6 separate regions of the Homo sapiens genome follow, and regions 1, 2, 3, 4 and 5 are each reported to be linked to region 6. The links are microRNA targets in miRTarBase. Many come from high-throughput screens and were not tested one by one. Region 6 holds a microRNA gene; each other region holds the end of a gene's coding sequence.
What was found. The annotated mature microRNA hsa-miR-196a-3p reads CGGCAACAAGAAACUGCCUGAG and lies in region 6 at 1,822-1,843, opposite strand. An mRNA with a match to its seed (bases 2 to 7 or 8) in the 3' UTR can be bound and repressed. Matches are read on the target gene's strand: a 7mer-m8 pairs with bases 2 to 8, a 7mer-A1 pairs with bases 2 to 7 and ends in A, and an 8mer does both.

Region 1 (4,848 bases), not on the chromosome of region 6:
CTCTCCAGCAATGGGAGCTTCATTCTTTACCAGTTTGAATTGTTTGGATTTACTCTTATATTTTTCAAGTCAGGATTAAACCCTTTTATATATTCTCGGAACAGTGCAGGGCTGAGAAGGAAAGTGCTCTGGTGCCTCCAATACATAGGCCTGGGTTTTTTCTGCTGCAAACAAAAGACTCGACTTCGAGCCATGGGAAAAGGGAACCTCGAAGTCAACAGAAACAAATCCTCCCATCATGAAACAAACTCTGCCTACATGTTATCTCCAAAGCCACAGAAGAAATTTGTGGACCAGGCTTGTGGCCCAAGTCATTCAAAAGAAAGTATGGTGAGTCCCAAGATCTCTGCTGGACATCAACACTGTGGTCAGAGCAGCTCGACCCCCATCAACACTCGGATTGAACCTTACTACAGCATCTATAACAGCAGCCCTTCCCAGGAGGAGAGCAGCCCATGTAACTTACAGCCAGTAAACTCTTTTGGATTTGCCAATTCATATATTGCCATGCATTATCACACCACTAATGACTTAGTGCAGGAATATGACAGCACTTCAGCCAAGCAGATTCCAGTCCCCTCCGTTTAAAGTCATGGAGGCTATAGGATCTTATGTAAACAGTTTTTGTTTCTGATAGTAATGGACTTTATTCTAACTTGAGATCAGTGGCGGATCAAAACCTACAAGATTCAACTGAAAAGTTGGCAGTTATGGTTTTCTTTCATCTGATGTGTCAGTATCTGTTGATTTGCTTTGTAGTTTGTTGACATCTTAAGATTTGATGTGAAAGTTTTAGATTTTTTACCCTGCTCTTTGCCTCAGTCTTTTGTACCGAGCCTTTAAATAGATGCCAGGAATGAAGCTACTGTGTTAAAGTAGAAAGTCAACCGATTATCATGATTTGAGTCAGTGTTATGTGACTTCAAAATAAGGTATTGACTGGATTTTTTTTAAAGAATGTGAAAATATGATTTTTGCTGAGGTGTTATTTTTATTAATTGAATTGTAAATTTTGATTTTTTGAAGTGTTGAAATCGGGAACACTACACCTTGTTGGTAGCAGGTTGATTTGAATAAATAATATATTGTTAGCTGGGTGCAGTGGCATGCACCTGTAGTCCTAGCTACTTGGGAGGCTGAGGCAGGAGGATCACTTGAGCCCGGGATTATGAGTCCAGCCTGGGCAACACAGCAAGACCCTGTCTCTAAAGGAAATGTATATATTCTTTTTTTTTTTTTTTTTTTTTTTTTTTTTTTGAGACGGAGTTTCACTCTTGTTGCCCAGGCTGGAGTGCAATGGCATGACCTCGGCTCACCGCAACCTCCACCTCCCGGGTTCAAGTGATTCTCCTGTCTCAGCCTCCCAAGTAGCTGGGATTACAGGCGCATGCCACCATGCCCGGCTAATTTTTGTATTTTTATTAGAGACAGGGTTTCTCTGTGTTGGTCAGGCTGGTCTTCAACTCCTGACCTTAGGTGATCCGCCTGCCTCGGCCTCCCAAAGTGCTGGGATTACAGGCATGAGCCACTGTGCTTAGCCAGAAATATATATATTCTTAAGGCAGAAAAGGTGATAACTCTGTCTTTACCAAAAACACTCACACAGGTATTAGGTACTTTTCTTTCATAGGACAGTCAACTAAGAATATAGTATTATGATTATTGCCATTTCTTATTATAGACATGTTTTATGTCAGTTGAGTAGGTTTACAATTCTTTTGAAAAGAAATATATTTGGGCCGGGCATGGTGGCTCACACCTGTAATCCCAGCACTTTGGGAGGCTGAGGCGGGTGGATCACCTGAGGGTCAGGAGTTCGAGACCAGCCTGGCCAACATGATGAAACCCCGTCTCTACTAAAAACACAAAAATTAGCAAGGCATGGTGGCAAGCACCTGTAATCCCAGCTACTCGGGAGGTTGAGGCAAGAGAATCGCTTGAACCTGGGAGACAGGTTGCAGTGAGCTGAGATCGTGCCATTGCACTCCAGCCTGGGTGACAAGAGCGAGATGTCATCTCAAAAAAATGAAAAAAAGAGAAAGAAAGAAAGAAAAGAAATATATTTTTGCTTGTTAAAAGTGAATTATTTATTTATTTATTTTTTTCCTGAGAGGGAGTCTTGCTCTGTTGCCCAGGCTGGAGTGCAGTGGCATGATCTCTGCTCACTGCAACCTGCGCCTCCCGGGCTCAAGTGATTCTCCTGCCTCAGCCTCCTGAGTAGCTGGGATTACAGGCGTGTGCCACCATGCCCAGCTCATTTTTGTATTTTTTAGTAGAGACAGGTCTTGAACTTGTCTTGAACTCCTGACCTCAGGTGATCTGCCTGCCTCGGCCTCCCGAAGTGCTGGGATTACAGGCATGAGCCACCCCAACTGGCCCAAAAGTGAATTGTTTCTGAATGATCTTATTCAAGAAGCCTAGTGAAGAGGACTGCATCTATGGTAGAGGTGCACTGTTCCCAGGAGAGAAGGCACTGCGGTAATCATCTCGGTGTTCTGTGGAAAACAGTGTGGACTCCTGTCATGCATTGGGCAATATTTATTATTGCTTAACAAGGTTTACAGATAAGACTGGGAATGTTTTGATTTATGTTTTCCTTCTGTGTGAGAAGAGTTTACTAACCACCTGACAGTATTCAAGTAACTATTTAGAAATGACTTCTTTTTTGTCTTTATTTATTATTATGGTAGAAAAATTCTCAAGATAATCTATTTTCAAACTAATCATTTTATTTCTCTCCCATTAATCTTAAAGTGGAAATGGGCAGAAAGAAAAAATAGATTTAAGTATTTCTATACCTGAAACTAATTTTACTATATGCTCTGAGATTCCTAGCATAACAACTGTGAACTCATATTTTATTGTAAAAATATTTTCAGTATACAGTTAGTATTTGAACTCACTAGGTTTTTAAATGTTAGACACACAAGATGAGCATCAATATACAACACCTATCTTTATAAATTGTTATATTCAAGAGTTATTATTGCAGATTGGAAGGTACTTTGTTCCTTTGCGTAAAAGTCTTTTTTTTTTTTTGTAGAAACAGAGTCTTACTCTGTCACCCAGGCTAAAGTGCAGTGGCATGATCTCAGATCGCTGCAACCTCCGCTTCCCGGGTTCAAGCGATTGTCTTGCCTCAGCCTCCAGAGTAGCTGGGATTACAGGTGCCCGCCACCACTCCTGGCTAATTTTTGTATTTTTGGTAGAGACAGGGTTTCACCATGATAGCCAGGCTGGTCTTGAATTCCTGGCCTCAAGTAATCCACCCACCTCGGCCTCCCAAAGTGCTAGGATTACAGGCATGAGAAACCACATCCAGCTGAAAGGCATTTAATTTATAGTTTCCTCCCTCAGCTCTCCCCAAATACAGGGGTCATGAGAGGTATAGAGAAGACAGAATAGATATTCAATTAGAACTCTGCTCAACCTTATCTTATAACTGTTACCTTTCAGTATTGATCAGTTATTTCTATTTTTGAGATTTAAATAGGCATAGATTTTCTTTTGTTTTCTTTTTCTTCTAAATTTTTTTCTTGCCACACCCAGGGGCAGCCTCGAATTATTTTGTTTTTAAGTTCACCTTTTAGACTGATTTGCCTACCTACTCCCTCCTTCTTTCCCTTTCTCCCTCCCTCCTTCCCTTTTTCCCTTTTCTTTTTTTTAAGATGGAGTCTCATGCTTGTTGCCCAGGATGGAGTGCGGTGGCACAATCTCGGCTCACTGCAACCTCCGCCTCCCAGGTTCAAGCGATTCTCCTGTGTCAGCCTCCCGAGTAGCTGGGACTACAGGCACGCACCACCACTCCCAGCTAATTTTTGTATTTTTAATAGAGACAAGGTTTCACCAAGTTAGCCAGGCTGGTCTCAAACTTCTGACCTTGTGATCCACCCACCTCGGCCTACCTAAGTACTGGGATTACAGGCGTGAGCCAGTGCACTGGCCTATTATCTCTTTTTAACAAAGAATTAAGAAATCTAATATTCTTTCCCAAGATCGTACAAAGAATTGTGGCAAATTAGGAATTAGATTTTTGTCTTAATTCAAAACCTGGTATTTACCCCAGTGTGCCAAACAGCTTTATAATGAAGACAACATTAATCAAGCATCACATTTTTAAAGGCATATATCTATTTTTTTGGCTATGCAAAAAACCTTGTCTCTATTAAAAATACAAAAATTGGCTAGGCATTTCAAATGTGATACAATAAAATATTAACACAAAAGTAATTTCTATTTATAAAATTTAAAATGGCAGGTTTTCTGTGTGACGTTTGAGTTTGAGATGATTTGACTGGCATGAGGCCCATCATTGGGAGGTAAAAATTACAGCACAAAGAAAACTAAGCAGGTGCATATGAGGTATTGTCTCTTTATGCTCATCAAAAAATAATCTCCAAAAGAAAAGTTAAAAAAATTATTGTTATAAATTGCATGAAATACATAGTGGGCTCGATTCATAGCCCCCGTCCGTATCTATATCTCTATATCTATAGAGACATAACTTCTTTCTTCGTAAGTTATATATGTCTACTTCTACCTGTGTTATCATAATAAAGGTGTCATGATGATACAGGTGGAGGTAGAAATATATAACTTATCTCTTCATAAGGGCTAAAATGAGAACTAAAAGTAATGAGAATTCAGTTGAATATGATTAATTATCAGGATATGTTAATTAGTTCTCTTGATGCTTACTGTGATGCAAAGTATGTGACGTATTTTAAACATTTTATAATAATTGTTCGTATGTTAACCATTAGGCAAGATTTGTATTTCTAATGCTTTTAATGTTCTTTTAAAATAATGTTTGGAAAATAAAAATACTGAAAATCCTAACATTTCTGA
Region 2 (4,848 bases), not on the chromosome of region 6:
CCCACCTGGAGAACCTGCAGCAGGTGCCCACCTCGGAGCTCCACGAGCAGGTGCACCATCCTCCGGGCCCCGCCAGGACTCCGAGAGCACAGGAAGGGACGTGTGGCTGCCGAGAGGGGCGCAGTGGGGTGGGGCACTGTTCTAAACAGGGAGGCCAGGCAGCACTCCACTGTCAGCCAGGGGGGGTCACTCCTGCCATGAGCTCAAAGCTGTTTATGGCGGGTTGTTTTCCTGCCGTCTCTTCTCTTCACTGTGATGCGCCTACTGTGCGTATTTTGTCCACGCTGGCAATGCAGCCAGCCCCAGCTGGTCCCCAGTTTGGGACCTTATTCCTGGGGTGTGCAGGGCAGGTGTCCTTCCAGGTCCAAGGGAGGCCAGGGCAGGGCCGTTGCCTCACTCAGGGCTGTGTGGCCAGCCTGGGGCGGGGCCCAGGGATGTCGGGCCCCTCCCGGCATCACTCCGCCCGCTCCCCACAGGTGACGCTGAGCTACGGTATGTTTGAAAACAAGCGGAACGCCGTCCACGTGAAGGGGCCCTTCTCGGTGGAGGCCGACCCATCCAGGTAAGGAAACCCCGGCCCAGATGGGCTTGCGTAGGGTGGCCTAGGGGCGTCAGGGGGCCTCGTGGAGCTGCAGCAGGGTCTCTCTAAGCGGCATGACTCTACATAGAGGTGTCCCCCGGAGTCCTGCTTGCTCGGGGTGGGGCCGCCAGTGTTGTGGGACTGCAAATGGGAGCTCAGCACCTGCCTGCCACCCACGCAGACCAGCCCCTGCTCTGTTCCCACAGGTTCCGCTCCATCCACTGCCACCTGTACCCGGACACACCCTGGTGTCCCCGCACTGCCATCTTCTAGTGGCCATGGCTGAGACCCAATCCCTGGGCGCCCCTGGTATCCAAAGGGCCCAGGGACCCTGTTGCGCTGCCCTGGCCTCGGCATTCGAGGCTCCCCTAGGGCCGTGCCTGTGCGTGTGCGTGTGCGTGTGTGTGTGTGTGTACTGCATGCCCACCCGGGTAGCAGGCTGCTGGGCAGTTCTGCTCTGTGGAGGGGCGGGCACCAGCGCCACTTATGTGCCTCTGCTCCGAGGGCCAGTGGGCTGCAGGGCCTGCTTGGAGGAAGGATTTGTGTGTCGGAGGCCACTCCGAGGGCAATTCTGTTAGGATTTTTGGATCTTTCTACAGCTACGGGGCTCCGGGCTACTTTGCAGGGATGCGATGCGTAGGTGCCTTTCTCTTCCTGCTGACCACAAGCTCTGTGCTGGGGGTACCTGTGCCCTGAAGTCCTGGCCCCTGTGTCATAGCCCCAAGTACGACTCACTGAGCCATGCTCATTGCAGGGGAGGCTGGGTCTGGGGGTGCGTGACCCAATCCCCTTCCTCCTGGCCTGGACGCTGTGGCTTAAGAGTAACAGCAGCCACCGCCCAGTTCCAGTGGCCCCACGAAGCCCCCAGTGGCTGGCTGTCCAGCTGGGCAAACAGTGGCACCCCTCCCAGCTCTTCTGAGTGGGGAGTCTTCCAGGCCTCCTCAGAGGTCTTCCCTTTGCCTCCCCAGGACAGGGTGAGTCAGAGCTCAGCATTTAATCTCCTCTCCAAAGTAGAGAGCAAGTCGCCCACAGTGGGCGTGTCTGTAAATATTGTGACAGTATTTTTTTACTGTGCTGTTTTTTTTGAAAGGGGATGGGTAAAAAGTAGGGTGTTCTTGTTTTTTGCTTGGGAGGGTGGGGGTGGGGGAGGGTCTTATTTTATCTTATCTTTTCTGTGGATCAGAAAAAACAGAAGCCAAACTCGGGGTCATCTTTGTTTTTAAAGCTGAAGTGGGACTGTCTGGCACTCTGTGTATTTATGCGTTCCAGCATCTGGAACCTCCCATCCCTGCCCTCCTCCTGTGTAGCTGCCACCTCCCCGCTGGGCCCAGCATGGCTCACCTGTCCCGTGGGCTGTGTTTCTTGTTGTTTTTCTCTTTGCAAAGACATAGCTAGGAAAGCGAATGATAAGGGAAAAGTTCTCAGGGAATTGAAGTGTTGTTGCTATGGTGACGTCCTTTTGCTGTGAATAAAGGTGCTCTTTGCAGCAATCCTGGGGGTCCTGGTCTTGGCTGGAGGTGGGGCCTAAGCCCCAGGGCAGCCAGGGTCAGGAGAGGCACACAGGTGAAGGGGAGGCTTGGCCTTGGGTGCACCGCATGGAGCAGGTAGATAGGAAACGCTTAGAGACAACTATTTTGGAACGAAACCTGGCGTCACTATAGCTGCCTGCTGGTGACTACAGGTGCGGCCCACCCAGGGTCAGGGTGGTCGCTGGAGCGTGAGCCCTGTGCTTCCAGGAGGAACAGGTCTAGGATGCTGGGGGCTCTAGGTCCCAGCCAAAAGCACAACCCCAAGGCTCTGGCCTGGTCTGGCCACTGGGGAGCCCAGCCCCTGCAGGAGGGACAGTGACTCCTGTGACCGGGCCTGGGGCCTCCTTATCCAACTTCACTCCTGCCACGAGCTCACAGAGTCCACATCATCGCCTCACTTTGCAGGTGGGGAAACTGAGGCACGGAGCAGCTGATGCCCAAGGTCCAGCAGCCATGCTGGTGGGCTGGGGAGGCGCTCAGACTCCAAGCCAGGCAGGCCGTGGGTCCGGCCGCCCCACAGCTGGTAATGCTGCACCTCCCTCTCCTGTGATGTGGCCCCAGGCCCCGACCCCGCTCAGGGGTGGTGGGAAGAGTCCTGGAGAGCAGGAGCAGTGCCGGAGCCCCCACTGCAGCTGGTCCCAGCCCCTGCAGAGATCCAGACGCTTGTTTTTTAAATACAGCAGCTCTGCGGTGCTTTTCCTTCCTCAAATCCAGCCTTTGAGGGTGACTGAGTAGGGGACGGGTGCTGCAGCCTCTGCGGGGATTCCCTCCCCTCACCCTCCTGGCAGCCCCGGGGCGGCTCACTTCCTCTTCACCATGAGCCCCCACCCCTTCCCTGGGGCTTACACCCTTGGCCTGGCACTGCCCTGGCCGCGCCCCTTGCAAGTTCCTGCTCTGGCCTGACCCTGCTTCCCCCGACCCCAGGGCTCCAGGTCCCCCTCCTGGTGCCTCTGCACCCCCCACTCTGCTCCAAGGAGACGACACACTGTGAAAAGTGCCTCTCTATGGGGGGGTGCCTTGCCCTCCCCCGTCGCTGCCCCCTCCAGAAGAGTGCTGACGTGCTGAATGGGCCTGCAGAGACCCCCTTACTCTAAGCCTGGCTGGGGGCTACCCTGGCCTTGGGGGCGGCTGGCAGGGCTGTGACCCCACCTTGGCCTTGGACGGTCCTGAGTCAGCAGAGCAGCTGCCTGGGGGGTGTGGACAGTGATGGGGATGGCGGGAGGATGGAGGGCCCTCACCGTCACGTGGCCTGACCCCCGTCTGGGTGGCTGTGGTCCTCCCTGAGCACCCACCATGTGCCCACCCACTTCTCATAGGACGGCATAGGCCCCTCTTCTGAACGAGGAAGCTGAGACTCTGGGGTGGGGCGGGGGGGTCGTGACGGAACAGGCTGCGGGCAGAGGCTGCTGGCCTCCTTCCTGCCCGGCTGACTCAGAGGCTTGGGGCCTTCTGCCCTGGCCCCGACGCTGTCCCCGCCTGCAGCTGGCATCGCCTCCCCACAGAGCTGGTGGGGCCCCGGGGGCAGAGGTGTGGCTGGACCCAGGGGTCGGACAGACCCATGGATACAGCTGTGGGGGCCCTGCCAGGGCTTGGGGAGTCCCCATTAATGTTCATATGTCCCTGTGTGTGGAGCGGGGTGGGAGTGGGGGCTAAGTGGGCATCGGGGAGAGCAGAGGAGCAAGAAGTGGGGTGGGGAGGAAGCCCGGCTCCTCCCGAGGCCTCGACCTCTCCATCTGACAAATGGGAACAAAGGTAAATGCAGTCCCCGGGTGCTGGAGGTCAGGGGGTGTTTTGGAAGGTGCACAGGACAGCGCATCTGGCCCCTTCCTCTTCCAAGCTGAGGGAGGGACGTTTCTCTGCCCTCAAAAGGGGAAGCAGGCCCAGCAGTGTCTTAGGGGAATGAGGCAGCCTGACCTCTTCCATCCACCGCCCCCCCACCCCCCAGAAGGTGACTCACCCGGCAGGGGAGGTGAAGTCATTCCTCCCCCAGGTACATTCTGGGGACAGCTGTGTCCCACCCACCAGTGGTGCCATCACATCAGATTAGAGGTCTGGTCAGAAAGGGGCCTGGCTGGTCCCTGGGGCTCCATGTCCCCCCAGTCTAGCCCAGCCAGGCCCCCTTTCCCAAACTTCTGATCATTAATGGGGCTTTCAAAACAAGTAAAACTGCAACCACAGGGGCTGCAGGGCGCTCAGCGAGGGTGGCAGACCTCAGCCGCCACCCCTGCTTCCGTTCTGCCAGGCGAGTGCCTGGGGAGCCCCAAGGCTGCTTGGGGTCTGGGAGGGGCTGCTAGGGTGGGGCGCCTCCCCACTCAGTTGAAAGGAACTTCCCTTCCACTGGGGCCATCAGGGCCAACTTCCTGGAAGAGGTGCCTCTGAGCTGAAGCAGGAAGGCTTTGTCAAGATGGAGTAGGGAGAGAAGGGGCCTTCCAGGTCTCAGCACAGCCTGGGCAAAGGTGCAGAGGTGGGATCCACTGGGAGGACTGGAAGCCTGGGAAGGAGGGCAGGCAATGCAGTTGGGTCTCTTGATCCCCCCTCCCCAATCACAGACAACTAGGGCTCTCCACAGGCTCAGAGGGGCCAGGGCCAGGCTGCTATGTGACTTCAGCCATTCTTGCCGGGTGGGCCTGGGGTCAGAGGGAAAGCAGGGACCAGGGCCAGATCCATCTTCGAGTCTGTCAGAACAATGGGCAAGTCTTGTTCCCTGCTGGGTCCATGTGCCCACACAGCCTCAGCCTT
Region 3 (4,688 bases), not on the chromosome of region 6:
CAGGAAAGACACCTAATGATAAGGCTGAGTCATGGGTCAGTTATGGTGGATGGAGCCAGAAGACTCATTTCACTGTGAAGACAAATGGACATGACACGTCAGCACACACTTACTCCTCCCTACGGAGCAGTCTCTAAATGGAAATCCTTCCAGACTGGCTGAGAGAGAGATTTTTTGGTGAACCTGTTTCAGTTAAATGTGACATGGGCAATAATGAAAAATTGGGTGAAATGTTTTTAGGAGGCAGAAATTTTGAAGCTGCCCCAGATTTCACACCATCGGTCTTTGATTTCTCTGCGCAGTTAGATTCCAGTCCCCAGTCTCTAGATTGCATTGGTCCAGTAAGGGGCAGCCTTAGTCCAGACCAAAAAAAAAAGCTGTATGGGTCCAGTGGGTCCAGAATATCAGTGATCCAGGTTCCGATTCCCCCAGCTGCACTGAGTGAGATTGAATGTCAGTGATCCAGGCTCCGATTCCCCCAGCTGCACTGAATGAGATTGAATATCAGTGATCCAGGCTCCGATTCCCCCAGCTGCACTGAATGAGATTGATGGAATCTTTCTTTTTAGGAGTGGAAGTATTATCCACTTCATGGGAGGAGCAACGAGCATCTCATGAAACTCTGTTCTGTACGAAGCCCTTGCATCAAGTGTTTGCCTCATTTACAAGAAAAGGAGAAAAGTTGGATATGAGTCTGGTCTCCTAATAGATTGTTTTCACTGCACTGGGAGCACATCAGAGGTAAGTAACCAGTACTGAAGACAGTACCAGGTGGGTAGTACTGTCTGATGAAGGGTACATCACCCTTCTGATGAAAACAGACACCTACCTGTTCATCTGGATGGAAGAGCAGGTTTGAGTATAGACACTGGCATTTTTGAACAATTCCCATGATCACCTGGTCCCTTCTTAAAATGCTCAAGATGTTTTTTAAAGGTATTAGTTGATCATACATTTTAGTTGAAAATCATTTGTGGGGCAATAAAAGCCATTTTTTGAAAAAGGTGTATCACTCAAGAAGTACTTATGGAAAAATATCAAATTATTGAGGGCATTAACTCTGGGAAAGACCAGGCAATTAAGTTGTCACAGTAACTGCTACTAATTTAATGCCAGGAATAGAGATGCCAAAAATCCTAAAATTTTCAGAAAGGGCTCTCACAGAAATGTAGCACTCCACTCAAACTGCAATAGCTTGATTCTGTTGAGAAACACTGATCTAAATAAATGGAAAAATAACCCACATTCACTAATGAAGATAATAAGGAAGACCCAATATTTTTTTTTTTTTAAAAGGAAAGTATTTTTAGCTTTTATGAAAGCTTTAAGTAATTTTTCCTCATTTTCCTGTTTGAAACTTTTGAAAAGGAAGTTCTTCAGTGTTTGTTTGGTTAGGCGCAGTGTATTCTAGGCCACTGCTTTATAAATATGGTGTGAGAAAGCAGTAGGATAAAATAATCAGAGTTCAGTGTGTCTCATATTTTGTTTCCTAAAAGTTTAGTAGAGCTGTGAATGTACTAGGAAGTCCCCTCTGAAAAAGCACAGTTAGTTAGTTAGAAATCTGCCCATTAACTCAGGGGGACTCAGGCGCCCCCCGGGTCTTCCCTCTCCTGCAGGCTCTCCGGTTAGTGTCCTGATTTGCCGTAACCACGGGCCTCTGACCTGCTGGCACCTCTGGTTCCTTGGCGTGTGGGTCACTCACAGATATGAAAACCTGTGTCTGGCTGACCAGGTTCTCCTGTAGCCCTCCCTTGCCCAGGCACAGATAGGAGTCATGACTGGCCCAAGGCCACGTTCAGACTTAACCCTGCAATGGCCACGAAGTAACCTCCGTGTGGGAGAGCTCCAGGAACAGTGCAGGGGATTAAAGCCAGCTTGGAGTACCCTTTAGAAGAAAGTTTAAGAATAAAAGAGACAGGGCCAGGCAGCAGGCGTTCCGGGGTACAGTGAGCTATGATGAGACCTTCAAGCTCTTGCCTTCCAGGCCTGTGGTGGGGACCAGTGGCATGAGTCAGCAAAGTACCAGCACTCCTCAGATAAGTGATATTAACAGAATTTCCACAATCACTTTCAAGTTGAATAAAGCTTTTAATAAAACAGTCTTGTTCTTTATCAATACCTGTAAATTCTCTTAAAGCAGTAGCAAAGGCGACTGTAGCAAGAGCTCAAAAGGCAAGGCAATATCGGAAAGTGTATTTAACAGAAGATTAAAAATATAAATGTAGAAGATCTGTTTATATATTTTTCTTTCAGAAATAAATCCCCCCTCCCCTGCCAGGTGAAAGGAAATATTGCACTTTCTGTTCTCATGACTAAGGGGACAGGAGTTCCAGAAGAACCTTTCAAGATGATCAGGAACACCAGGACGAGGGCCGTCTCACCTCACTCGGACCACATGGAGACCTCCCTTCAAAATGGGAGCCATGTCCTGCCCCACCAAGCCCTGTCTGAAGTGGAGCTTCCCCGCCTGTGCTCCCTCCACAGTCCCGGAAAGCCCAGCGGCAAAGGCAGCTTTGTCCCAGCTCTGCCACCCTCCTGCTCACAGTGGTCAGGGCCCCTCAGGGGCAAGGACGGCAGGGATTGGAACGAGGGCTCTGGAAGGACTGTTCAGCCCTATGCCTAAGACCCCTATGCTGGGGACACTACAGGCACACACAGGAATAGCAGGGCCACCCTCAGAGCTCACACATCCACGAACAAATGAAGGCTGAGGAGGTTTCTAAACCTAAAGTCCATGAGTGTGCACTTCAATCCAGGAAGGTCGGGACTTCCTTCAGTTTCAAAAAATAAATTCTCCCTTCCGGTTTGGACTGTTGCAGGCTCGAGGCCATTCAGGAGTTGTCCACCACCTGGTGGGGCAGTGTGACAGAGGGGCCATTGGGGAAGGTGGCTAGCTTATCCCGCCCCTTCAAGAAGAAGGTCAGCAGCTCCCCCTTCCCCTTCACAAAGATGGGGCCTCGCCTCACAAAGCGGAAGCCGTACTCTCGGAGGATGACTTGGGTTTCTTCTACCACCTGGAGAGGGAGGGGGAGCAAGAACGTGGCGTTACGGGGGGAGCCTAGACTGAGGGCGGGTGGGGGCTTTGGGTGGTTGGAGCCGAGCACTGATCCATGGGTCCCAAGCAGTACGGGACACTCCCCAAACCTCCCAGGGCCAAGCCCTTCCACCCGTGGCGAGCAGCGGGTGGGAAGGAGAACCCTGGAGTGACTGGCTGGGGGCCTCCTCTCATCCAGAGACTTCTCTCCTAGGATGGCCATGGTCACCTGGGTGGCAGCACTGTTACCTGGAAACTGCCACTGCCTGCTCTTCTGTCCCTTTGCCCCTTTCGTGGAGCTTTTCTGCCAGACGCCACTGAGACAGATCACAAGGTATTAGAAGGTTCATACCCAAAGGTAGGCCATATGCATCTAGAACTTCAGCCCAGATTTTGTGGATGGGTGGAAGTGTTTCTTCCTGTGCTGAGGCTAGCTATTGCAGAGATTCTTTTCCACTTGCCCCACGTCTCTGCCTCTGGACTTACTGTTCAGGGCCAGGGTGGGAGGCAGGGGCACGTGGGAAAGCACTGTTCCGGTTTTGTTCTCATGCCGAGTCTGAGCACGTGCCAGCTGTGCCACTGGACATACCTGAATGTTGCCCATGACCCCCGTGGACTCCATCCTGCTGGCTACATTGACTGTATTGCCCCAGATGTCGTAGTGTGGTTTCCGGGCTCCGATGACCCCAGCCAGAACCCCGCCTTTGTTCATGCCTAGGGTAGAGGCATAAAGTTCAGCACAGCCACAGGCCACACCTTGTTATGGGCCTCAGAAGCCATCTCCTCTCCAGACCTGTACCACAAAGCTCCTAATGTAACACATCATTGTCCTCATTCAACTTGGCTGTATGCTATTGGAGGGTGGAAATCACATCTCCTGTTTATCCGTGTGCTTGTTAGGTGTCAGCCGCCACCCCCCCCCCATATGCAGATTTACTCGGCATGGTAGTGGCCAGCTTCTAACACAGCTGGTATTTCAAGTCTCCTGGGACCTCACTCAGGAATGATACCCCCTCAGTAGAAGCAGCAGGTGATCTTAACTCCTTTCAAAGAGCAGGCCTGTCTGGGAAGCCATGTCCTCAGCAGGCACAGCAACCCCTCTGGAAATGGATCACAAACTCACTTCTCAGCCAGGCAGGCCAAGCTTCTATTGTAACAGTAGGCACAGTATAGTCGGATCATCACATCAGCTGGGTTTTTGGTTTAGTCATCTAGAGTCGTCTGGACTAAAGGTCTTTCAGGTCTCCTTGCCCTGTGAGTGCGTGAACCTCCCCACCCGAATTGCCTCAGTTGTCCTGAGCCTCATGTCTCTCCTGGTGGTGGGCCAGGCCCCTGCATGGGAAGGGAGCCTGCTGCGGGGCAGGCCAGCTGGGGGTGCTCACCTATGCGCAGCATGAAGTTATTGAAGGACTGGTTGTTGATGTTGGTGAGCGTATCCTTCATGGCCAGCGCGAAGTCGGCCAGGTCAGCCAGGTGCTGCCAGCGCTCTCTCTCGGACTTGTCTTCCTGTGCCAGGGGACCGTGGAGAAAGTGTCAGGGGCCGCTCACTGCAGCAGCCTGCTCTGCTGCCTTCCCTGGCAGTGTTCTGGGGGTGGATTCCCTACACCTAGATGTTCAAGGCCTTACTTTTCCTCCCACAAAGGAGTCGCAGCCA
Region 4 (4,848 bases), not on the chromosome of region 6:
CCATTAGTTGAGAATCATTGCTGTAGGGAGACATGTTCTTCAGGTACTGTATCATATCCCTCAGGTGTGTTGTGGTAGAGTAGATTTGAGAACATAACTTTGACTATAAACTCTCCAAGAGCAAGGGCCATGTAATTAATTGCTTTTTTATTTCCCCAATTTTTTTTTTTTGAGACAAGAGTCTCACTCTGTTGCCCAGGCTGGAGTGCAGTGGTGCAATCTCAGCTCACTGCAACCTCCACCTCCTAGGTTCAAACACTTCTCCTGCCTGCCTCCTGAGTAGCTGGGAGGGACTATAGGCGCCCGCCATCATGCCCAGCTAATTTTTGTATTTTTAGTAGAGACGGGGTTTCACCATATTGGTCAGGCTGGTCTCGAACTCCCGACCTCAGGTGATCCACCTGCCTCGGCTTCCCGAAGTGCTAGGATTACAGGCATGAGTCACTGTGCCCAGTCCTTTTTTTTTTTTTTTTTTTTTTCCTTTGAGTCAAGGTGTCACTCTGTTGTCCAGGCTGGAATGCAGTGGTAGGATCTCAGCTCACTGCAGCCATGAACTCCCAGGTTCAATTGATCCTCCCACCTCAGCCTCCTGAGTAGAGGGGACTACAGGCATGTACCACCATGCCTGGTTAATGTTTGTATTATTTGCAGAGACGGGGTTTTGCCGTGTTGCCCATGCTGAACAATATTTTTTTTCTTTTTTGAGACAGGGTCTTATTCTGTCACCCAGGCTGGAGTACACTGGTGCAAACACAGCACACTGCAGCCTCAGTCTCCCCTGGGCTCAAGTGATGCTCCCACCTCAGCCTCGTGAGTCGCTAGCACTACAGACACATATTACGAAGCCTGGCTAATTATTTTTATTTTTTGTAGAAACAGGGTTTTGCCATGTTGCCTAGGCTGGTCTCAAACTCCTGGGCTCAATCTGCTCACCTTGGGCTCCCAGGGTGGTGGGATTACAGGCATGAGCCACTGCACCCGGCCCACAGATTCTTATTGAGGCCTTTGTAAGTAGGCAGTTAATGCTCTATTGCCACCATTTCCCACTGTATTTTTTATAAATACCAATTGTTTGGTCAATCGACTTCTATTTATGAAACTGGAAAAGAATAATGATGATCCCAAATGTCTAACCTCATTGCTTGCCTTTATACAGAATCCTCACTATGGATGGGCTCATTGAGGACATTAAGCATCGGCGGTATTATGAGAAGCCATGCTGCCGGCGACAGAGGGAAAGCTATGAAAGGTGCCGGCGGATCTACAACATGGAAATGGCTCGCAAGATCAACTTCTTGATGCGAAAGAATCGGGCAGATCCGTGGCAGGGCTGCTGAGGCCTGTGGGTGGGACACCCAGTGCGAAACCCTCATCCAGTTTTCTCTCCATCTCTTTTCTTTGTACAATCCCATTTCCTATTACCATTCTCTGCAATAAACTCAAATCACATGTCTGCAAGAAGGCCTCCAAATATAGAAACAATCCCATTAGTCAGCAGTGGACCCTGTCTTTTATTAAGTGAAAGAAGAAACTGAGTCTGAAAGTACTCTAGGAGTAGAATGGTATTTGCCAGGGACTGGAGGAGGGGGCAGTGAGGAGTTATTGTTTAATGGGTACAGAGTTTCAGTTTGGGCAGATGAAAAAGTTCAGGAGACGATGGCCTGGCATGGTGGCTCACGCCTGTTATCCCAACACTTTGGGAGGCTGAGGCGGGCGGCTCACTTGAGGCCAGGAGTTTGAGACCAGCTTGGCCAATGTGGTGAAACCCCATCTCTACTAAAAATACAAAAAAAAATTGGCCGGGCGTGGTGGTGCACGCCTGTAATCCCAGATACTTGGGTGGCTGAGGCAGGAGAATTGCTTGAACTGGGGAGGAAGAGGTTGCAGTGAGCCAAGATCATGCCACTGCACTCCAACCTGGGCGACAGAGTGAGACTCCATCTCAAAACAAAAAAACGGAGATGGATGATGAATGGTGATGGCGGTTGCTCAAAAAGTTGAATGTACTTAATGCCACTGAACTATACCCTTAAATGGTCACGATGGTAAATTTTGTGTTTTACTACAATAAAAACTTTTTTGAAAGTCCAGGAGAAGTAAGGAATTTTTTTTTCTTTTTTTTAAGAGGAAGTCTCGCTCTTGTCCCCCAGACTGGAGTGCAATGGTGCAGTCTAGGCTCACTGCAACCTCCGCCTCCTGGGTTCAAGTGATTCTCCTGCCTCAGCCTCCCCAGAAGCTGGGACTACAGGCACCTGCCACCACGCCCAGCTAATTTTTGTATTTTTAGTAGAGACGGGGTTTCACCATGTTGTCCAGGCTGGTCTCGAACTCCTGACCTCAGGTGATCCGCCCACCTCGGCCTCCCAAAGTGCTGGGATTATGGGCATGAGCCACCATACCTGGCTGGTAAATTTTTTTTTTTTTTTTGTAGATGGAGTCTCGCTCTGTTGCCCAGGCTGGAGGGCAGTGGGACAATCTCAGCTCACTGCAAGCTCCGCCGCCTGGGTTCACGCCATTCTCCTGCCTCAGCCTCCCCAGCAGCTGGGACTACAGGCACACGCCGCCACGCCCGGCTAATTTTTGTGTTTTTAGTAGAGATGGGGTTTATCTGTGTTAGCCAGGATAGTCTCGATCTCCTGGTCTCGTGATCCCCCTGCCTTGGCCTCCCAAAGTGTTGGGATTACAGGCGTGAGCCACTGCGCCCGGCCGGAAAATTTTTTTAATGTAGTGAAATATGTCTACCATTTCCTACCCAATTTTTTTGAATCCCCAAGCAAAATCTTACTGAGAAAGCATCTATTACTTTTTATTAAACTGTTCCATGTTAGGTAGAGAGGAGAAGATGCATGTATGTATTTGGAATAAATTCTGCTTCTGAAAACACCTATCAACCAGACTAGAGTGCTGGAATCCTTGCCCAAAGAAATTCTTAAATCTACCCTAATGTTCATTCCTGTTTTCTGTCCTTTTAGTTTTCCTAACAGAGACTAAGAGAGGGATGGTGGAGAAGAAATAAAGCAATAGATGGGTGGGACTCAGTAGATAGTAGGAAAGAGGGAATGGAGCGTTGAGAGAGAATGGCACAGAGCCAGAAATACCCACAAAGCAGTGCTTCTCAAAGTGTCAGATCAGCAGCATCAATTTCACCAGAGGGATTGCTTGAAATGCAAATTATGGGACCCTACTTTAGATCTTCGATATTGGAAATTGAGGTTGGAGCCCAGCAATCTATTTTCACAAGCCTTGCAGGTGATTCTGATGCCTGCTAGAGTTACAACCACTGCCCTTTGCAGTACTCAAAGAGACTTCAAGTGGAGGTTCCCACCATCACTGCCTCTACCCAGCAGTCACTCCTGATTATTTTACTCTTGACAGCTGCGGAAACTGACCACTGTGGGAAGACCAGCTGCTCTGCTTTTTCTCCTGCTGTTTCCTCCACCATTGGTTGGCTGACAGCCGTGTTGCTATTATTAAGAGTCGGTGCCAGGCCGGGTGCCATGGCTCACGCCTGTAATTTCAGCACTTTGGGAGGCTGAGGCGGGCGGATCACGAGGTCAGGAGTTTGAGACCAGCCTAGCCAACATGGTGAAACCCTGTCTCTACTAAAAATACAAAAAAATTAGCTGGGCGTGGTGGTAGGCGCCTGTAATCTCAGCTACCTGGGAGGCTGAGGCAGGAGAATCACTTGAACGCAGGAGGTGGAGGTTGCAGTGAGCCAAGATCGCGCCTGGCGACAGAGCAAGACTCGGTCTCTTTTAAAAGTTGGTGCTGGCCAGGCACAGTGGCTCACGCCTGTAATCCCAGCACTTTGGGAAGCCGAGGTGGGCGGATCACAAGGTCAGGCGATCGAGACCATCCTGGCTAACATGGTGAAACCCCGTCTCTACTGAAAATACAAAAAAGTTAGCGGGGCATGGTGGCGGGCGCCTGTAGTCCCAGCTATTTGGGAGTCTGAGGCAGGAGAATGGCGTGAACCCGGGAGGCAGAGCTTGCAATGAGCCGAAATCGCGCCACTGCACTCCAGCTTGGGCAACGGAGCGTCCCCAAAAAAAAAAAAGGAAAAAGAAATAGATCTGCTCCTTTCCCTCATTTTGGAGAAAATCTGTATACAGGCTGCCTTCAACTTTGTTCCCTTTATACAACCTAGTCTTAACAAACAAGATATGACACTTCTGAGTCACCTTTAAATCTGAATCTGAGGCCGGGCGCGGTGGCTCACGCCTGTAGTCCCAGCACTTTGGAAGGCCGAGGAGGATGGATCACGAGGTCAGGAGAGCAAGACCATCCTGGCTAACACGATGAAACTCCGTCACTACCTTTTTTTTTGTTTTTTGTAGACGGAGTCTCGCTCTATTGCCCAGGCTGGAGTGCAGCGGCGTGATCTCGGCTCACTGCAAGCTCCGCCTTCCGGGTTCACGCCATACTCCTGCCTCAACCTCCCGAGTAGCCAGGACTACAGGCGCCCGCCACCGCGCGTGGCTAATTTTTTTTTTTAATTTTAGTAGAGACGGGGTTTCACCGTGTTAGCCAGTATGGTCTTGATCTCCTGACCTCGTGATCCACCCGCCTCGGCCTCCCAAAGTGCTGGGATTACAGGCGTGAGCCACCGCGCCCGGGAGGCTGAGGCAGGAGAATGGCGTGAACCCCGGAGGCAGACCTTGCAGTGAGCCGAGATGGCGCCACTGCACTCCAGCCTGGGTGACAGAGCGAGACTCCGTCTCAAAAATAAATAAATAAAATAAAATAAATCTGAATTTGGTCTTTAGTACATTTTAATGATATTGAGCCATAATATAGTGTCATCTACCACAGTGGTAAGGCATGTTTGTGATAACAGAATCAGGCCTG
Region 5 (4,848 bases), not on the chromosome of region 6:
TCAGCCTCCCCAGCAACTGGGACTACAGACGCCTGCCGCCACGTTGGGCTTTTTTTTTTGTATTTTCAGTACAGACGGGGTTTCACTGTGTTAGCCAGGATGGTCTCGATCTCCTGACCTCGTGATCCGCCCGCCTCAGACTCCCAAAGTGCTGGGATTACAGGGATGAGCCATGGTGCCCGGCAAGGGTTCCAGTTTTTTTAACCTTGTTTTCCCCCATGTTGACTTTAAAAGATGTCATTTAATGTCAATCCTTTTTTAAAAAAATCGATGTGAATTCACTAGATCACTTAGTGGAAAAACACAAATAAAGGGGCAACGGGTCCAAAAATCTTAGAAAGGAGGACTATATTTTTCTTTTTCTGAGTTCTATTGTACAGCATGGTGAATACAGTCAAAAATTGAGTATTGTACATTTCAAAATTGCTAAGAGTAAATTTCAGATGTTCTCACTACAAAAATGTTAAGTATTTGAGGTGATGGATGTAACTAGCTTGACTAGTCCACAATGTATGCATAATTTATAAGATCACTTTATACTCTATAAATTTATACAATAATAGTCAATTTACAAAAAAAGTATCTTATGATTATGGTTTCATATATATGTATTTTTTTACACGTAAATACTTGACCACTTGGAACTTCCCTTAGTATAAAAAGGAGTCTAATCCAACTTTTCTCTTTTCAAGGTGGCCCAAACTTCTGAGCATGGGTAGTTGTTGCAAAGTTCCAGTTCCTGATCACACACGGCCCCTTTGTGCCACGCCGAGTTCCTGTGTATTTGGCTTATTTGTGGACTTTCTTGTTCCAGGAATCTTTTTAAAGGGCCAGCATCATGCTGTTTCAATTACAATGTTCTAAAAACAGCAGAATTTAAAACAATTTGACTAGTCTGGCATATTTGCTTTTCTGTTTTAACTTTAGAATCCGCTTGTGTTTTAAAGGAAGGTTTTACATCTTAAGATACTGTATAGCAAAATGTGAGAATCAACAGAACTTTCACTTATTCAGGGCCTGTGTTCCTTAGTAATGTTATAATACCTTTCACATAGGTGTTTCCCTATTTGTTACTAGGTATTTTATCTTTTTTGGGGGTTGCTATTGAAAAAATGACTTCTGGTCAGGTGCAGTGTCTCATGCCTGTAATCCCAGCATTTGGGGAGGCTGAGGTAGGAGGTTCGCTTGAGGCCAGGAGTACAAGAACAGCCTTGGCAACATAGCAAGACACTGCCTCTATAAAAAATACAATAAAAATTATCTGGGCGTGGTGATGTACACCTGTAGGCCCAGCTACTCAGGTGGCTGAGAAGAGAGGATCGCTTGAGCCCAGAAGGTAGAGGCTGCCGTGAAACATGATCATGCCACTGCACTCCAGTCCAGGTGACAGTTAAGACCCTGTCTCTAAATAAAAATAAAAAATGACCCTCCATTATAGCCTATATTTATAGGAAAGCTACTGATGTTTTTGTTAATTTTGTGTCTGGTTAACTTGGTGAATTCTTTCTTCAGTCACAGATTTTCATTTGCTCCTTAGATGACCTGGGTATGCAACCATCTAACCTGCAAGTAATTTCACCTTCTCCTTTCCACTTTTACAGCATTTCTGTCTAAGTGCTGTTTCTTTTTCAATGATTTCTTCTATACTATTTGTTTTACCACACTGACCTTTAACAATAAAACATTAAATATTGCTAAATAAGAGAATAGATATAAATAGATTTTCCTTTCTTTTATAAAACAGAAACAGGCAGGCCGGGCATGGTGGCTCACGCCTGTAATCCCAGCACTTTGGGAGGCCAAGGCGGGCAGATCACCTGAGGTTAGGAGTTCAAGACCAGTCTGGCCAACATAGTGAAACCCCGTCTCTACAAAAATACAAATATTAGCTGGGCATGATGGCGGGTGCCTGTAATCCCAGCTACTTGGGAGACTGAGGTGGGAGAACTGCTTGAACCCAGGAGGCGGAGGGTGCAGTGAGCTGAGATTGCACCACTGCACTCCAGCTTGGGCAACAGAGCAAGACTCCACCTCAATTAAAAATAAATAAACTAAAATGGAAACAGGATCTCCCTATGGTGCTCAGGATGGTCTGGAACTCAGGCTCAAACGATCCTCCCACCTTGCCCTCCCATAGCTGGGACTACAGGCGTGAGCCACTGTGCTCAAATGAAACAAAGGCACAGCACAACGAATCGTCCAAGTAAAAAAGACCCACTTGTCACTACCTGGCCCCACTGGTATTTTGTGGTAGAGGTGGCCAGGAAAGAATAATCACTTGAGAGGGGACAGGTGCTCCCTGCTCTGACTTCTGTCTAGTGCACTAGTAGTCAAAGCTGCTAAAGAGTTATGAAGAATGTGTCATTTGCATATCACAAAGTTTTATTAATGTAATTTTAAGGCCAATTAAACTAATTTTATTCAAAGTAAGTCTACATTAAATTACAATATTAACAATCTCTAGACACAACGAACTTATAAGAAAAAAAAAATAGAAATCTGTTTGGTCTTTCTTAGACCACATATCATGGAACTCATAAATGAAAATTTTCAAAGATAGAAATGACAATTAAAGAGTGAGGATTTTAATATGGAAACCCACAAGGTGTCATATTTCAAACCCGCATGTTTCAAAAAGAGACTCTTAATAATTTAGCACAAAATCAAATTATATAAACTTGGTATATTCCAGAAAATATTGCTTTAAACACTTATGCCATGATCAAAATTCCTTTGGTAGCTTTTAATCAAAATGAAACATGCTATTATGTAAAATATAAAGTACTTTTAAATGTTATCTCAAAAGTATCTTTGTCATAGTTACCCTTCTAACATCACTACTGAACTTTCCTTTCACTGTTCAACCTCATGTATATATACACAACACAAAACCAGGTACCAACAAAATCCTTTTAATCTTTCCACAAAATAACCTCTGCTTCACAACATCAAGACTTTAAGTCTCCATAAACTTTTTACAGTTTACAGCAGAGAACAAGGATCGTCCCTGCGCATGACTGTAAAAACCAAACCAAACTTTATTATTGCAATCACACAAATACTGCAATTAAAAAAAATCAAAGAGCAGTTACCCCAATGCAAAAAAACAGGGACTGCCAGACTCAATCTTAGAATGGAAACACAAACACACTAGCCCCAAACCCTAAAACAGAGATTCACAAGGAACTCAGCTGACGAACAGACGCAGCAGGGCGGACACCATGGCCTTGGCACCTCAGGGAGCTCACTTAGAAACCTGACTTACGAAAAATCAGCCATCAAAGTTTACAACTTTTGGAAATACATGAAACAGAGAGGGGCCAGTGGCTAGGGTGCGTCATCCATTCGCCAGCTTTGAACCCTGGCTCTTTCTAATGTTCACCCATGAAGGGCCCTTGTTTTCACTCTAAATGCTGATCATCTGAGCGAGCTGTCTTCAGGGATACCTAAGGAATCTTCAGAGCTAAAAAATGCAGCATCTAGGGTCTTCTTCATTGTGCACTCATGATCACACACGAGAACAAACCAAACTTGCAGCTTTTTGACACAAGAACAAGACCTTTTAAAGGAACTTCTCTTTAGTAACATCTTCTTGTCCAATCTCAAAGTTATTTTGCACAGAGTAACAGAAACAATTTAAATGCCTAAAAGAACTAGAGGAAAAACTGGAGGGAAAAAGATACATCTGCAGGTTGAAGTCTTGAGCCTTGTGAAAGATGACCCAGGAGCCACCTCCCTTCCTTCGCCTTCCAATGTCCACAGCTGGATCAATCAGAGTCCCAGAAATGGCACAGGTGTGCTTCCTGCTCTGAGGGTACATTCTAGTGTTTCATGAAGGGGAACCGTCTGCAGATGCGTCAGGCCACGTAGTGGTACTGATTCGGATTGTCTTTGTCTCTCTCCATATAGTCTCTGTCTATCAGAGATTCAATTCTCTTTTTCAAATCTCCAGGCTAAAAAAGAAGAATAAAACCCCCCTAATTACAATGGCATTAAATTTACAAACATTTACATACAAGGGGTATATGCATGAAGTATGTAACTATACTTATAGAAATATATATACAAATAGATATTTATATGAAAATCATTTATAATTATACACATATTTATGAAATGAACAAAACTTTCTATTTTAAAGACAAAGTTAACGTTATCTCTTGATAAAAAAAGCGTCCATGTGAGTTTATGGTCAGAGTGTGGTTTCCTGAGGGAAACGTGAAACTTGTGAAATGTACATACATCATCTGCCATCAGTAAGGGCACGTATAAGCGAGGCAGATCCGACATCTGCCATCAGCAAGGGCACGTATAAGTGAGGCAGACCCGACATCTGCCATCAGCAAGGGCACGTATAAGCGAGGCAGACCCGACATCTGCCATCAGCAAGGGCACGTATAAGCGAGGCAGACCCGACATCTGCCATCAGCAAGGGCACGTATAAGCGAGGCAGACCCGACATCTGCCATCAGCAAGGGCACGTATAAGCGAGGCAGATCCGACATCTGCCATCAGCAAGGGCACGTATAAGCGAGGCAGATCCGACATCTGCCATCAGCAAGGGCACGTATAAGCGAGGCAGATCCGACATCTGCCATCAGCAAGGGCACGTATAAGCGAGGCAGATCCGACATCTGCCATCAGCAAGGGCACGTATAAGTGAGGCAGACCCGATCACGTGACACATTTTTATTTGAAAGGAAAATCTCAACATGTCTTACTGGGGCAACTTTTATCCTTTGAAAGGATGCTTCTGCCTAAGTAGTGTATTTTATTTTGTTTATTTATTTTGAGATGGGGTCTCATTTTGTCGCCCAGGCTGGAGTGCAGTGGTGCGATCTCAGCTCA
Region 6 (4,848 bases):
GCTCCATTTCTCTGCATTTGGGGAGGAGACACCTCAACCCCTGGCTCTCTGACCTCCCACACATAAGCCCAACAGCTCTGAAACGGAAATGGGGGCACAGAGACCCAAAGCACAGAAGTCGTTCATTAGTGAATTTCGGCCCATCAGGGACTCTATCTCCAAGCCAAATGCTCCTGAGCACCCAGTCCCTGCCTGGGACACGCTTTGCCCCAACTGACTGTGTGCCTGGGGCAGCCTGAAGACTCAAAGGCTGCTAGGAGCTCCCAAACTAGGGGAATCCCTTGCCTGCTTCCCACCAGCTGGCCTGACTCTCTGGAAACTTCCCCATTTCCCTGGGAGCCATAGAGAGGTTTGAATACTTCTCTCCAAGAGAAGAAATTTTTTCTCTCACAAAGGGATGGGGGACAGACAGACCAACAATCCAGCTAGGGAGACAGGAAATTCTATTCCCATTTTCTCCTCCAGCTTCCTTGGGAGTCAAAACAAATATGTTCGCATAAGAGAGGGGAAAAATAAATGTGTATGCGTATAAATACATACAGGGTATTTAAGAGAGCCTAGGGGAGACAGAAACAGAGCCCTACACTCATACAAGGTCACATATATCCCTCCCAGCAGATGACTGTGAGAATATAGAACTCTGTATATATTTTGTTACAGGGACATAATTTTGTTTCCCTGTCTAGACGTTTATAATGTTTTAATAATCATAATAATTTCAAAGTAAGAGAACCAAGAACCTGACCTTCTTTTGGCTTCTCTTCCCCAGTATCTCTGAGAACAGGGGTGTATCTCCTCAGTCTCCATAACCCCTCCCCCATTTATTCCCCCCCCCCCAACTCCGCCCGCAGGCAGGCAAAGAAACCTCTTTTGAGAACTTTCTCTGTAGCAACCAGGGCCAGAATTGAAGAACCAAGGGGGAAAGGATGAGAGGAAGCTTTGCAAAGTTTCACACTGCTCAGATTTTCCTCTACCCCATTCTCCTCCCCTCCTCCCCCTGGCATCAGCCAACAACCTTTCCACCAACATAGCAATGGTGGGCACGGGCAGCCTCTGTTCACCCAGATGTTTCCACATAGTGCAAAGACAGGCAGCTGCCTGACAGTCACAGCCACAGAAACTGAGGCCTTCAGGCCACAGACGACTAAACAGAGACCAGAGTCAGGTTTTTGCCCTGATGTTTCCCAGTTGCGTGCGTGTGCGTGTGTGAGGGGTTCTACTTGGACTTTGATGGCTTTCCTCTAACCTACCAACACCCCAAACATGTCCTTCCCCTGGAGATGGAGCTATAGAAGGGGAAGGGGAAAGGGCTGGGCTGGCGCTCAGAGTTCCCCAACTCTTGGAACCTCCAGGTACCCCACTTTTCTAAGGAGAATCTTGAGCCCCAGTCGACTGGAGGTGGTAGGTGGGAGAGGCTAACCATTCCAGAGACCGTCTTCTCTTTCTGTGCTCCTCTTTCTGCTAATAATTCTGCCCCACCCTGCTGCCCAACTGAGCTGGCCCGCCAGGCCACCTCTTACTCAAACTCCTGAATTTCCTTGGAATTGGCTGGACCCTCTTTGTCTGTCTCCATCAGCTGGGCCCAGGAGACAATAGCTGCAGGAAAGACTCCTCTCCCTTAATCACAGGGATTGGGATAGGTTGAGAGGACGGCATAAAGCAGGGTTCTCCAGACTTGTTCTGCAACCCCACTCACAGCTTGTCCTCCTTGGTCTGCACCCACTTTGCCCTATCTGGGAGGGGGCAGTGGGGCAGTCCCACTGGGGAGGGTAGGAGTGGGAGAGGTGGGTTGGGGCCCTCGACGAAAACCGACTGATGTAACTCAGGCAGTTTCTTGTTGCCGAGTTCAAAACTCAATCCCAACAACATGAAACTACCTAAGCCACAGATCAGCTGAGCGAGCAGGGCGGGAGATTCAGCTTTGCATCTATCTGGAGGAGAAGGGAAGGGGGTTGGGGAAGGAAGAAATTCAGCCCCGTCCCCCTTTCCGCCCCCACAACCTCCCTAAGGACTAGAGAGTAGACTTTGGGTTGCTGGGTGGGTAAGGGGTCTGACTGCCTTCATTAGTTTCTGGTCTAAGCAAATTGCTCAGGAAAAATCTGGTGAAATGGGACCACTGGCGGCCAAATACCTGCCCCACCCCCAGCACCGCAGTGGAGCTATTCCCCTGCATCTGGCCCTGGCCCTGGGGGAAGCTGGATCTTCCTTCCACTCTGGAGCTGGGTCCCCTGTCTTGTCCATCTGGCTCTCCTGCACTCTCCTGCTAGACTCCCTCTGATCCTCTCCCTCTCAGCTCGGTTTAGGCTTCTCAGCGAATGTGGGTAGCTGAATCATAGCCCTGTGCTCTGGAGCCACTTCCAATCAGGCCACTTGCCTGGCAAAACGTTACAGCCAGGGAGCACAGGGAACAAGAGGCTGGACGAGGCTCACATCCAAACCAGCGAAAAGCAGGAAAACCTAAGCTTCAAGCTTCAACCCTCTGTACTCCTCCTCCCCCACCAACAGACGACCAGACTGAGCAACACCTAGACCAGAGTGTCGACTTCGAGGAGACCCAAAGTGCCCGAAAAGATAAAGAAGCCAAAAACCATCAATTTATCCCTTTAACTGTGGAACCCCCATGGCAATGGGCCCGGGAGGGAAGGAGAGGGAGCTCCCAGTCGCTGCCCTCCGCTGCCAGCGGCCACTAGGAAAGCCTGGGTTCTCGGCAAGCACGGATGCCCTAAACACCTTCCTCCAGGCTCTGTCCGCTGCACGCCGGACACCTGGGGACACCGCTCATCCCCACTCCGCCGCCAAGAGAAGAACAAGAAACCGCTTCTCTTACCTTGTCGCTGCCTCCTCCTCCTGCTGCTCCTGGCGTTTCTGTTAGCTGCTGTCGAGGTTGGGGGGGCTGAGCTCCTCATGCCCCTCCAGCGGTTAAGTTTATTCCTTTCCTTGGATGGGTGGGGGGCTCTTGGGGTGACCCCCAGCAGCAGTGGGGTGCGCCCAGCCCAGCACCCCAGGCAATCAGATCCGTCTGCTCCTCAAGATTGCAGCTTGCTCTCTGCCTCTTTCCCTCCTCCAGTCACCTTTAAATGCATCTTTTACTGCAGCACCACATTATATTTGCAGATCATAAAATCCACCTCTCGCGCGCACCAAGACCGTCCTGACATTACTGTTTTATGACCTTGACTTATTGTGGTCACCTGGATAATATTTAAATCAACGTTATGGTCTCTCACTTACATTAAACCCGCCAAGAGACGTTCTAGAAAGGCTCTAGGAGATGAGTCAAACACAAAACACACACATCCACACACTCAGCCTCTTCGGGGGAGGGGTGTTGCTAAAAATCACTAAAAACAAAAAACCATCCATTTGAGGATTATGATTCTGGAAATTTATTAGGTTTTTTTTTCTCCATTAAGGAAGCTACATGCAAAAGATACAACATACAGAATATCTTTAAATAACACAACTCCCAGACAGGGACAGGACAATATTTGGGGGGGGGGGCATTCTGTCTTTGCTTTGCTATGTTCTATTTTTAATTTTTTTGTTCCTCTGGATGAAATTTCTGAGATGTTACTAGATGGGGGATGTGGGGGTGCTAGGAGGGGTGGGAGAAAAGCAGAAAGCAGTACAAATACGAGACTTCAAGCAGATTCTTAGAGCGACTGGGAGGTAAAGACATGGAGAGGGTTTGGTGGAGGCTCTGGGTGCTACGACAAACACACGAACACTAGCCGAACTTTCCAAAACGTCTATTAGTCTAAGGAGGAAATGCAGCAAGGAAGGAACGATTCTGCCTGTGCTCTGCGAGATTACAGACCCTCTCTGGTTAATTTTTTTCCTTTTTTTCCCCTACAAGCGGATGGATTCGATCTTAACTTTGCATGGAGAACAGAATGCTGTGTGTGAGTGCGTGGGTGAGTGAGGGCTTGACACACACACCAGCCACACTCCCACCCCCATCTATGAGGGCACACACCACACCCCACATCCCGGCACCCCATTTCTCATGCTTTAAGTGGAAGCATCTTCGCAGCACGAACCACAGGTCCCTTGGAAGGAGAGTCTGAGGTCTTTGCCTTTTTTGCAGTCGCATTGCATTTATACTCAGGGAGGAAAAAAAAATATATCACCAGGCACAAAGGGAGGAGGGGCGGGGAGAGGAAGGAGCGGGAAGGGAGGAGGAGAGGCCGCGCTCTCAGGTGAAATTAAAATTGGAGGTCAGTTCCCGGATCCGATTCTCTCGGTTCATTTTCTTGAGTTTCATTCTGCGATTTTGAAACCAGATTTTGACTTGTCTGTCTGTAAGGTTAATGGTCTTGCTAATCTCCAGGCGGCGCTCTCGCGTCAAATACATATTGAACAGAAATTCTTTCTCCAATTCCAGCGTCTGGTGTTTAGTATAGGGGCACCTCTTCTTCCTTCCGCTCTTTGCTGTCAGCCAATTTCCTGTGGTGTTTTCTGCCTTTATCTCCTCTGTTAAAAATAACATTATTTACATAAGTATCCCTCGAAGTCGAAAACCCTCTCAGCGCTGCAGCCTTTGCCAGCCTGCTGTGGGGTGGCTGAGGGAGCACAGGGGAGCTGCTCTTGCCCCAGGGGCCTGGCGGTGGGCTCCTCTTAGGCTCAAGGTTCTTACAATTTCTTTGGGGTTTAGACTTAGGGAGATAAAGGGAGGAAGTTCTTGCCTCCAAGCATTTATTAAATTTAAATTACCCAAGTCCACCTTAATCTAAAAGATCCTGAGTACCCTGGCTTTCCCCCAGCTGGCTGACCCTGGCAGATTCCCTAAACCTTGCCAGATCCCCCCTTCTCTCTGTTCCATTCCAGCTCTGGAAAAATCCAACCAGA

Region 1: miRTarBase lists GPR75 as a target of hsa-miR-196a-3p. The part of its 3' UTR that is shown has no 7-base or 8-base seed match.
Region 2: the mRNA of LFNG is a reported target of hsa-miR-196a-3p. The part of its 3' UTR that is shown has no 7-base or 8-base seed match.
Region 3: the mRNA of CENPO is a reported target of hsa-miR-196a-3p. Seed matches in the 3' UTR shown: 7mer-m8 at 3,629-3,635.
Region 4: miRTarBase lists MRPS21 as a target of hsa-miR-196a-3p. The part of its 3' UTR that is shown has no 7-base or 8-base seed match.
Region 5: miRTarBase lists CUL4A as a target of hsa-miR-196a-3p. Seed matches in the 3' UTR shown: 7mer-m8 at 2,011-2,017 and 8mer at 1,213-1,220.

The regions. Positions count from the first base shown.
Region 1 is chr2:53,848,874-53,853,721 of GRCh38, reverse strand. GPR75 (G protein-coupled receptor 75) reads left to right here. Exons shown (of 2, transcript NM_006794.4): 2 at 1-810. The coding sequence ends at 588. All of the region lies in intron 1 of GPR75-ASB3 (GPR75-ASB3 readthrough), which reads left to right. It overlaps MIR3682 (microRNA 3682), which reads left to right and starts at 4,517; the gene lies at 4,517-4,600.
Region 2 is chr7:2,526,360-2,531,207 of GRCh38, forward strand. LFNG (LFNG O-fucosylpeptide 3-beta-N-acetylglucosaminyltransferase) reads left to right here. Exons shown (of 8, transcript NM_001040167.2): 6 at 1-50; 7 at 477-562; 8 at 787-2,070. The coding sequence ends at 853. MIR4648 (microRNA 4648) reads left to right here and starts at 715; the gene lies at 715-786. RefSeq lists enhancers at 2,010-2,984, 2,985-3,958, 4,390-4,539 and silencers at 2,990-3,049, 3,570-3,669.
Region 3 is chr2:24,817,101-24,821,788 of GRCh38, forward strand. CENPO (centromere protein O) reads left to right here. Exons shown (of 8, transcript NM_001322101.2): 7 at 570-741; 8 at 2,254-4,688. The coding sequence ends at 706. It overlaps ADCY3 (adenylate cyclase 3), which reads right to left. Exons shown (of 22, transcript NM_004036.5): 20 at 4,417-4,540; 21 at 3,624-3,748; 22 at 2,069-3,014. The coding sequence ends at 2,832. Among named protein-coding and RNA genes, the nearest start is that of CENPO, 26 kb to the left of the region's middle.
Region 4 is chr1:150,306,892-150,311,739 of GRCh38, forward strand. It overlaps MRPS21 (mitochondrial ribosomal protein S21), which reads left to right. Exons shown (of 3, transcript NM_031901.6): 3 at 1,157-2,088. The coding sequence ends at 1,337. Among named protein-coding and RNA genes, the nearest start is that of PRPF3, 12 kb to the right of the region's middle.
Region 5 is chr13:113,262,592-113,267,439 of GRCh38, reverse strand. It overlaps CUL4A (cullin 4A), which reads right to left. Exons shown (of 20, transcript NM_001008895.4): 20 at 332-3,953. The coding sequence ends at 3,858. MIR8075 (microRNA 8075) reads right to left here and starts at 4,520; the gene lies at 4,441-4,520.
Region 6 is chr12:53,988,794-53,993,641 of GRCh38, reverse strand. It overlaps MIR196A2 (microRNA 196a-2), which reads right to left and starts at 1,904; the gene lies at 1,795-1,904. It overlaps HOXC10 (homeobox C10), which reads right to left. Exons shown (of 2, transcript NM_017409.4): 2 at 3,363-4,473. The coding sequence ends at 4,196.